Linked DNA regions of Homo sapiens: region 2 is linked to region 1. The links come from fine-mapping of genetic effects on gene expression. A gene starts in region 1. The other region holds a variant in brackets. All regions are shown on one strand. Distances are between the middles of the regions.

Region 1 (5,397 bases):
CTTCAAATCCCTTTCAATCAAAATCATTAAAAGCTATATTTCAGATTTCGGCATCTTCCTAAATTGTGCTAATACTTTACATTTTTAATTTTGAAATCATCCTCTTCATAAAAACTTTCACTCTTTCTAACTTTTAATAAGCTATTTGTTACTCTCACTTTATGATAAGTCTTCTATCCTTCAAACTGTCCTTATTTATCCAATCAATCATGATAATAGAAATTTCCAACTACTCAATGCTTACTATGGGTTGGGCCCTGTACTTAGTATTTAATTTACCTCATTTTGAAAATATCCTGTGAGGTGATTATTATTCACCTCATTTTATAGATGAAAATGAGGATTAAGGAGATTAAAAAACATATCCATGGATATACAGCTTATAAATAGAAGAAGCTGTATTTAAAACCATGTTTGTATGACTCCAAAATTCTTACATTGATTCACATAGCTTTCTTACTCAAGTCAGATAATATGGTGAAGACATTATTTTTTCTCACTTTTCCTAAACTTTCTATGGTACTCATTCATTCTTGCCTACACACCTTTACTTAACTATGCTTTTTATCTACAATGATTCCAAAAATCAATGAATAAATCAGGACCTAAATCTTGTTTTTGTAAGCAGGGTATGGTAGGAAGAGCGCTATCTATGGAGTCAGGCAGACCTTGACACAAATCACATTCCAGAATTTACTGACCATGTGACTTGACAACTCCCACTGCCTTGTCTCTAATCCTTAGTTTATCATCCACCGGAGTTAATATTATTCGGCACACATGAAATGACAACAATCTACATATGACTATAGATTAAATAATGTCTTGTATTTGATGTATCCAGAACAACACTTGAATACGAGCTGGCACTCAACAAATTCTGGACTGTAAGCTCCCTGACACAGATTCCTGCATCTCACCCCCAATGCTAATCAGAAAAAAGAAGGTCACATTTGTTGCATTTAGTAGAAACACAGGAAAAGTCCATTATAGCAGTTGTCAAAACAGCTTGTAGTTGTCGATGTGGTATCAGAAAGAACCTACATTTTAAATCCATTGTTAATCCTAATATTCAGGTTTGGATACATCTAGTTTAAGCTAGCCTTCACCTATGTGCTCAATACTTTCTAAATTAAAAAATAATACTAAATAACTGAGGCTTTGACCTTTAAAAGTTGAGGAAAATCTCTTCAATGTAATCATATTTCATTTAGCATATTTATTTAAGTCAATAAGAGCTAGATGTTTATGATTAATTTCTATATTCATACTTTTCCAACAAAACAAATACATATTTATAATTCTACTGTACTAACATGCCAGTCATATTTCTACAGGAATTTCAAATGTAGTTCCATATCTCAACATGTGATACTACTTGCAAAAGTCAGATCAGTGGTATCTCATCACAAGTGTCAGTGTTGAGTTCATCATCCTGGGCCAAACTATAAAGAGAACCAACTACTTTTTGAACCATAAGTTGAACACTTGTGAAAGCCTTGTTACATCCATTGACGAATTTCATATAAACTATATTATACATGGGTGATTTTATTTGCCAATTATGTGATATTTATATGTTTACTATATCTAAAATTTTATTTTAAAGATGTGTCATTTGGTCATTGCTTTACACTTGTTTTCTAAGTAAAATAGAGGGAGTTCTTTGCCATGAGTGCATTACATAACACAGCTATAAATGAACATGGCTAATTGGCCTATATGGAACTTTTCCTTAGTCAGGCAGGTAACTTTCTTGACCCTCTAATGGGCATCTAGTTTCTCAATGTCAGATTCAATTTAACCAGAAGGCTTTTTGTGTATATAAGGGTCTTGCTCCTCTTTTCTGAACATTTTGTGTCTTCCAAGGTTGTGACACTTAGATTATTTTTCTCTTGTTATCATGGAACAAAATCTACTGAAATCCTGAAGGCAATATTATATGTTGTTATATGATTGTTCAGGGGCAGAATGATACTCAGTTCCATTAAGGGACAGCCTTTCAATGTCAAGAGACCAGAGGGTTTGTTAAAATTGGACTTACCGTCATAGTTCAAAGAGAACAATGTGGCCAATATGCGACCACTATGTGGGAAGAAAAATCTTGCTTTTCATTGCCGGCATGGTTTACAAGAATGATCTAATTCCTGAGAAGATTACTGAGATCAACAATAGCTTGCATTCAAAGGCTAGCCTTTAGGTTTTTATTTTTAAACTTTAATGATGGCAGATTACAATTTATATTTTAAGGAGGTGAGATGTTATGTTTGCATTTTGAGAGCTATATGAGTGGTCAAAGAGAGATAATCTGACATCCTAAGGCTTAGAACATGACTGCTTATGTCTGAGGTTCTACGGGTTTAAAAAATATACAGATACTTTAAAAAATAAGGTGAATACTGAAGACACTTATACAAAGAAATAATGACTCTTACAACTTTACCCAAATATATTCCTTAGTTCTGTCAGTTCTTTTTCCTTGATCTGCAGGTCATCTTCTAATCTTTCTATTGTGATAACATATGATTCACTGACTTTTTTCTTCCATTCATCTAGTAAAGAAGAACAAATGAGATTGATTCATAGTTGTGTTTTGCAAAATGTAGACACAGATCATAACATACAAGTAATCAAAACTGTTTTTTATTCTAGATTCTACAATACTTAATTTAAATTACTGATTGTGTGTTTAAAATGCAGATGTTTATATTTAAAATGCAATCATATTGAATTGTAGTAATGAAGAACCCATTCGATATTGGATAATATATTTACATAGAAAAATATATTTGACTTATTTCATTTGATTTTATTGCATTTTAATTATAGCAATCTCTAGTTGCAAGACGGTTTTTAGTTTTTAAATACTAGATACTTAAGATATAATTCTAAAATCCCTACATTCAGCAATATTCCAAATTTTTTTCTGTAACATTATACCAAGGAACTAAAATAATATTTTTGTAAGAAATTTCTTGTTTCCTATAAAGATCTTCAGAAAAAAATAATTTGAGTTCAGATAGTTTTTCAAAGACTTTCACAAAACATGCTGCCTTATCTTCCGTATACAAATTAACACATATTCCAATGAGTTGTTAGTTATCAGTAACTATAATTGAACCATATTACACTTAAGGAAATAAGAATAATTAGAATAATTACCAGTACAAGTTTGGGTTGGTCTAGATTTATAATTTCCCATTTATTATAAGTTTCTTCCTTTCTCCAGGGCAGTTCTTCAAGTTATAAGATTCCAAGTTCAAGTGCAGTGACAGTCCAGTTGAAAAATACTTTGATAGTCTGGCTAAAAATAAGCCCAACTGCCAAATGGAATGTCATGCAACAATGATAAAGAACAAAATCGTGTGTGCTTTCGAGGGTGAAATCATAAAGGGAACTAATCAGTCTGTTTAAAAGAACTGTATCAAAAATAAATAGCAAATGTTTCAATAGGATTATTTGCTTCCATCAATTATCTACCCATACATACTTTCATGGACCATTTATTTAACAGATAAATCTAGAAAATGATTCAGTTACATCCGAAGTTCACAAAAGAGCTGTTAAAACTACATAGACCTGTTTTCAAGATCATTTTCTCCTAAGCCAAAATAATGGCAGTTGGTAAAGAGTGGTAATAGAATGTGTCTACATACATAAATAAATAATAAAAATTCATTACCTCTAGCATATAACTAATAGAAATGAATGCAGGTTTGGCCTGTATAAGAGCTACATAATTATGTTTGTATGAAGAAATTCTCAACATAGACCAAGATTTATACTATTGTGGATTATTCCGACCATAAGAATCATAGATCAGAATGTAAAACATTAAGTTCTACAAATAGCAATTCGTAAAATAATAAATGACAAGAACAGTAAGATTAAGAATAAGAAAATTGAGCATTTGCTATGTGTCAGACCCTAGTTTACATGCTTTACATATATCTCATTATTTAATCTCATACATACAGTGCTGCTAGGTAGATATTATTCACAAATTATGGATGAGAAAACACAAAGTTACTAGTAAGTTGGAAGTCTGGAATCAGTTCTGACCATGTGACTCTAATATCCAAGCTAGATATTATTGATTTGTCTTCCAGAATTTCTCTTTCATGCACCTTCCATTTACTTTATTAGGACATTTCTCTTTGTATGCATATTGTATGCCTATTTCTACTGATATAAAGAACCCAGTCTATGATGGAGAATAAATGGGAAACCCAGAAAGAAAACATTAAATTTTTCACTATATATTTATTTCAGATAATCTTCTTATACCTAGAAAGTATAAATTTTAATCTTCAGATTCACATCCAGAGGATATAGCTTTAACTTAACAGATACAGATTTCATATTTTCTATAGTTAAATGTTCAAACAACTCTCTTTTTGAATAAATGATTAGACAAAGTTAGGACTCACCATATATTTTTGCTCAGCAAAAGTAATAGAAGTTTCAGAGGTAAGGCTTCCAGACTGATGAGATATAGTTGGCGCATCAGGTGTCTGGCTTCATAGACACTTTTTGTCCTCATCTGGACATATTCTCCTTTTCCCTTCTTATCAGTACATGCCTACCACAGCTGTTGATACTTGCTATACTGCAGTGGCATCTGGTTACCTTGGTCCATACACTCTACATTCTCCTTGTTTGAAAACCAGACATCTTCAGTTCCACCAGCTTTCTCTAAGCACTTCTGTGACCCCCATTTTCTCAGTTTGGAAAGTCTTTGTTTTGTCCAGGGACCTTCCTGCTTAATCTCTTCTTCCTTATCTTGAAGACCATACTGGATAGCTTTCTTTAAAAGACTTGCAATCTCCCAGGGCTACACTTTAGGAAATAATGCACCAGCTCTTTCTCCTCTCAGAGTTTCTTAAAATAATCATGGTTTCTATACTCTGAATCCAGAAGGACAAAGATGGGAGCCTTCTAGAGGACAACTAAATATATTTTTCTTGATCTCTTTTCTTATTTCTAATATCTCGGATCTTCCATCCGTGTGTGTGTGTGTACATGTATGTTTTCCACATATGGAGGAAAAATTAGCTCTTACATCATCTTCCACTGTGTTTCTAATTTCCTGCTTGGGACACAAGTCTGATGTACTGCTTTTTAGAATTTTTCCTTTTGATTTTCAAGAATACTTTTATTCTCTTAAAAAGCCTAGGTTTTACAAATGAAAGCTTTGGCTTTCAAAGGTGTGATTTCTGCGATGAGTTTGAAAATCCAATCAGCAACTCAGTTGAATTCTCCCACATTCTAATGCAATACATTTTGCTGGAAATAAAATGAAACGATAGCAATATAAGAAATGCAGAAAATTACTCAAAATATTACCCAAAATATTAACCACTATTGAACTATAACAGTTTCCTGGTTTGAAAGAAA
Region 2 (5,397 bases), 230 kb after region 1:
TTCCAGTTAAAATATTTAAAATCAATTTCTTTGGTACTTCTCTCCATCACGAGTTCAGACCTTCATCATCTTTCACCTGGATGTACTGCAATGCAGCCCATTAACCCTTCTCCTTCCAGCTTTTCTGGCCCCACACCTCAGATTCATCATCTGTCTAAAATATAAATCTGTACCTACACTCCTTAGCTAAAAAATAAACCCTTAATGCCTCCCCCATTGCTTTCAAGTTAAAAACCCAAGCAACTTAGCATCTGAGAGAAAGCCCTTTAAAATTTATTTTCTTCGTCTGCCTTCAGTCGCATCTCCACCAGGTATTTACTTTTTGTTCTAGTCACATACAGCCACTCTGAACATGGTGCTGCATTAGCCTGGAGTATTCTGCACTCACAAGCTACTGGTTTTGGCGTACCTATATTCATAATTAAGAGGCTGCCTCCATATAACAAACTTGGAAATTTTTCTGTCTCACTCCACCTTCCTACTTCCATTTGAGCCTGGTGTCCCTCCCACGTATGCATAGGGCCCTCTACATCTCTGTCATTATTTTTTATCATATAGTAATATATTTTCCCATTGACTTTCTTTTCACAGACTTTAAGGTTCTTGAGGGTACAGACCTGCCTTCTTATCATTTTCTCATCAGTAAGCAACGCAGTACTTGATATATAATGAGAACTTGGTAAGCATTTGTTGAATCAGTAAATAGCAATGATGCTCAGGAGAGTGAGAAGTGACTTTAGATATAAAGACTTACTGAATATAAAATCAGGTATGATGCAAACAACTTAGCACACATCGTCAGACACAGAAGCTGCTCAGTAAACGCTAGTTCTCTTTCCCTTGAATTGCCTTCTAAAAATTGGTTGCAATTACATAGATGAAGGTGAGAAAGGGGGGCTTTATAGATTGAAGAGAGTGTGTCAGTCTTAGCTTGGTAAGGTATTTTGGGAATAAAGGTTGTTTATTAGAAAATTTAGGGTTTAAAGAATGTGTGAGGAGTTGAAGGGGAAATGCCTGAGAGACAGCTGGAGGACTGGGCAACCATCACTCACTACTGCAGACTGAAGCACAGGTGGAGACACTGGAGCACAAGCACTCCAGGAAGCCTGAGCACCCCGCGCGGGAGAACAACGGAGTTTCAGTTTCACTTTCACCTTCCAAATGGTGTTAATGTTCCCCCAAAGGCCAACTGTACCAGCACTCCTGGAAAAGCGCATCCAGGAAAATGTAGTTCGCAGCGCTCAGGAAGTTGTGCTCTGCCACTGGTGCTGGTGGTGGCACTGGTGATACTTGTGTTGCACAGTTGATAACAGCCTAAAACAGGGAGAAAGGTGCAAAAAAAAAGGATAATAGTGTGCTGAGGTCAGAGGGTAAATATAGGCAGTATAACAGAAAAAAAAATAATTATTCAGAATAGATTAGCCAGGTGAAGCAATTCCAGAGCTTGTGTGGGAAAATGGGAAAAACTTGGACTTTGGACTTGGAATAATTTGTTCTTAATCCATACTCTACCACTATCAGCTATATACCCTGACCAAACACTTAATTTGTCTAAGCCTGAGTTACCTCATGCCGAAAACAGGGCCCAACCCTGCATGCAGGGTTGTCAGGAGGAATAAGTGAGACTGCATGTAAAACTCCAGGGTTTGGCATGCACTAGGCATTCTGTAAAATTAACTACCATGTTATTGTTATAGCTGCTTGGGTCTTTCATGACCCTTTTGAAATTTATTGTGCCTAATATTATTAGCAATGGAATCCTAATGAATGTTTTTTGAACAAAGAAATGAACACATTTCTCTATAATTAATTTGGTCCTTGAGCCTGTTAAATATGCAAAAAGTGTTTCTCTAGTGTACCATATGTTTCCATGGGTGTGTATTATATAAATCTCATTAGATTGCATGTGCATTGAAGGCAGAAGCAAATGCCCCTCTTCTTATATCCTTTTACAGTGTCTAATGCAATCTGATACTGTGTACACAGTTGATAATTGATGAGTGTTGTTAACAGCACCAACTGTATCAATCTCTGTCTCATATCAGCTGTAATAAGTTTCCCAAGCTGGAAATGAGAAAAAATAGAGAAAGAATAACATTTTCTGTATTTGAAATGAATTGGCCTACTATGAAAAATGGCTAAAACACGACTGGTGTGGTGGCTCAAGCCTGTAATCCCAGCACTCTGTGAGGCCGAGGCAGGTGGATCACAAGGTCAGGAGATCAAGACCATCCTAGCCAACATGGTGAAACCCCGTCTCTACTAATACAAAATTTTGCTAAATACAAAAATTTGCTGGGCATGGTGGTGGGCACCTGTAGTTCCAGCTACTCAGGAGGCTGAGGAAGGAGAATCACTTGAACTTGGAAGGTGGAGGTTGCAGTGGGCTGAGATTGCGCCACTGCACTCCAGGCTACGTGACAGAGTGAGACACTGTCTCAAAAAAAAGAAAAGAAAAATAGCTAAAACAGGTACAGGTAAGTACAGGTAAAAAATATGAAATGAATCGAAAAGGCAAAACTCGAGTAAACATAAAAATAACTTGTATTCTTTGCATTTAACCTTAGCTAAATCGGGAGGCTAAAAATTATCACAAGAACATTATTTCAGCTGACCTTGTCATACTGGAAATTGTAAAAGTATCTATGAAAATTTTCATTTTTAGGTCACAGCAGTATATTTTTCATACACTTAAAAAAATCTATACTCTTCTTCTTCTTCTTCTTCTTGTTTCTTGCTCTTGTCACCCAGGCTAAAGTGGAATGGCAAGATCTCGGCTCACTGCAACATCTGCCTCCTGGGTTCAAGCAATTCTACTGCCTCAGCCTCCCGAGTAGCTGGAATTACATAATTACATAATTACAGGCACCAGCCACCATGCCTGGCTAAGTTTTTGCATTTTTAGTAGGGACAGGGGTTACACCATGTTGGCCAGGCTGCTCTTGAACTCCTGACCTCAGGTGCTCCGCCTGCCTCAGCCTCCCAAAGTGCTGGGATTACAGGCGTGAGCCACCAAGCTCGGCCAAAAATCAACAATCTTATTGTTAAAAGTAAATCTGTAAGACTCAGATAATGATCTGTTTTACAATCAATTGTTTTCTCTCTATTGTCTACAAAACTAGATCATTCAGAGGGGTCATATTTGTCTTGACTGTTTGGCATAATTGCCCAAATATCCAGAGACATTTGCTCAGCATTCTAAGTAATTTTCTAATAAAATATGAAGGCATATTTAAAATGGAAAAACCAACAACATCATGATATACTGGTTTAAGACTTTTAAT[TTTAATG/G]ATACGGAAAAAGCTTTTTATGAATAAGGAATTGATTTGTTTGAAAATTGTGCAAAAATGGAGAAAGGAAAAGATGGGAATCTGGAGCTACTAATCCTAAGAGTGACTAAATCTAAGATTAGTCACTACTACAATGCACTGCATTTTTTTATTCCTTCATCAAGTGTGTAAAGATGGATATATGTCAAAGATTCTGCTTCATTCATTTCCAGTATCTTCAGCCATAGTTGATTTACTTTAATCTTGGCACATCGTCATCGAACCAGTAGACTAATAGCTCTTACGGATTTAATTGACTTATTTAGGTGATAGGTCCATCTATATCAGAGCTACAGAAATAAAGAAGGCATAGGATTACTTCCCAGCAAAGCAGAAAAGAGGAGATACAACATAAAAACATATATTTTTAAAATGTCCACTGAATCAGATGCATGGCCTAAAAAACCTTAAAAATACTTATTAATTTTACTTTTAATATTTAGTCACTTTAAAAATCCTGTGTGAATTTAAAAGAAACAGCACATGCAGATCAAAGCTTTCATGGAATCTGCTCTGCACAGCAGGTGATGGATAGAGGGGCCCACTGAGGCAGGTGAGGCTCTCTGCAGTTATAAGAAATGTAATTTGGAAAGCAACAAACATATTCCTCCTCAATAGATCTATTTTCTCCCTTGATCTATGAAGTTTGCAACTCATTGATTACAAACAAAATTTCAATTAAGATTTGAAGATTGACTGCCATTAACTGCTGAAGAAAATAACATGGTAGATGCAATTATGGGTTCAACTCCTAGTCCACTACTTGTTGAGTGTAGCTCCCAGCACTTTTCAATAAACTTTCTAGGCTGCATACTCAGAGTATGGAAAATATGTCTGGTATAAAATATGTTTTTTTGAATGACAATAAGTGAAGAAGCTCCTCATGTGTAAGGTGACTATTGCATTCCTCATGGATTTATTGAGGGAGTTAAAGTAGGTCATGTTTACTACAGGTTTTAATCACGGTGTGCCTCATAGTTAGCACTTAGTAAATGGTGGTTATTTTCATGATTAGGGTGGTGATCTTCTTCATCCAGGAATTCTCTCAAATTTTTCTTTAAAAAAACACGATCAAACTAATGTGTTCACTGAATTCGTCTGACAAATTACAAATACTGCTTTACATGGATACCCATTACCAGTTCAGCCATCATCTAAGTACTTACTCTTACATGTAATATTGTCAGATTTATGGAGCGCAGGATTTCTGTTGATATAAAGGCTAATAAAAAGCCTGACAGGTTTCTACCATTTTTCCCAAATGAAAAATTGACCTAAGGGTGTTACTAATTCACCCTATCAACAAAAAATAATAAGAGAAATAAAATGGAAGCTTTTGGAACCAGTGGAACTTGAGCTTCACATTCCCAAATTAACAACCCAATAACTATGTATGGCTTACTAAAAAGTCCAGCTCCAGAGAATCCTTAAGACCATTGTTTTCATTTTATTTTAGGATTTGATACTTAAAGATGTGTCATGAGGACGCTGTCTCTCTCTGGTATTATCATGTCCAGCATGCAAGCTGTTCATTCAGCCTTTGTCACCCCTGCCAGGTCTTTGGAAGCCATTGAGAAGTGTGTCTTTTGCCATTGTTTCTCAAATAATCTGATCGGTGTCTTCTTTCTATTTAATTTAACTAATCTTATCAAGAAAATGAAGCAGTAGCAATTTTTTCTTCTCTGATATTCCAAAAACTTATTAAGACAAGTTTTGGTGGCAATACATTCTGCTTCCTATTATAGTTATTTGTGAATGACTTAACATTCCTTCATTGTATAACCACATCTTATTATCAAAAAATGTAGTTCTATACACATGCGAAAATATGTGCAGTGTGGTATAGTTTGCTGTATATATGTGGTATATATACAGTAAAGGCTCAATAAGGTTTTTTAATTGAATTACCACCTGATGATCTTCAGATTGCACTTCCCTGGAGGATATTTCCCTCTCAGACTCAGTCAGTTCCTTGTTTTGTTATTTCATAACACCCTTTATTTCCTCATAGGTTTTTCATAATGTTAACAAATAATTAATTAATTATAATAATTCACTTAATAACTGT

The links. PIP is the estimated chance that this variant, and not a neighbour inherited with it, causes the effect.
Region 2: its variant is the best candidate, but not a certain one, in a credible set for the expression of TNNI3K in T cells (TOPMed, PIP 0.64).

The regions. Positions count from the first base shown.
Region 1 is chr1:74,233,257-74,238,653 of GRCh38, reverse strand. TNNI3K (TNNI3 interacting kinase) reads right to left here and starts at 3,267. Exons shown (of 25, transcript NM_015978.3): 1 at 3,163-3,267; 2 at 2,444-2,552. The coding sequence starts at 3,202. FPGT-TNNI3K (FPGT-TNNI3K readthrough) reads right to left here. Exons shown (of 27, transcript NM_001112808.3): 4 at 2,444-2,552.
Region 2 is chr1:74,006,117-74,011,513 of GRCh38, reverse strand. No RefSeq gene overlaps it. Among named protein-coding and RNA genes, the nearest start is that of LRRIQ3, 190 kb to the left of the region's middle. The variant TTTAATG/G (reference allele first, on the strand shown) is at 3,285.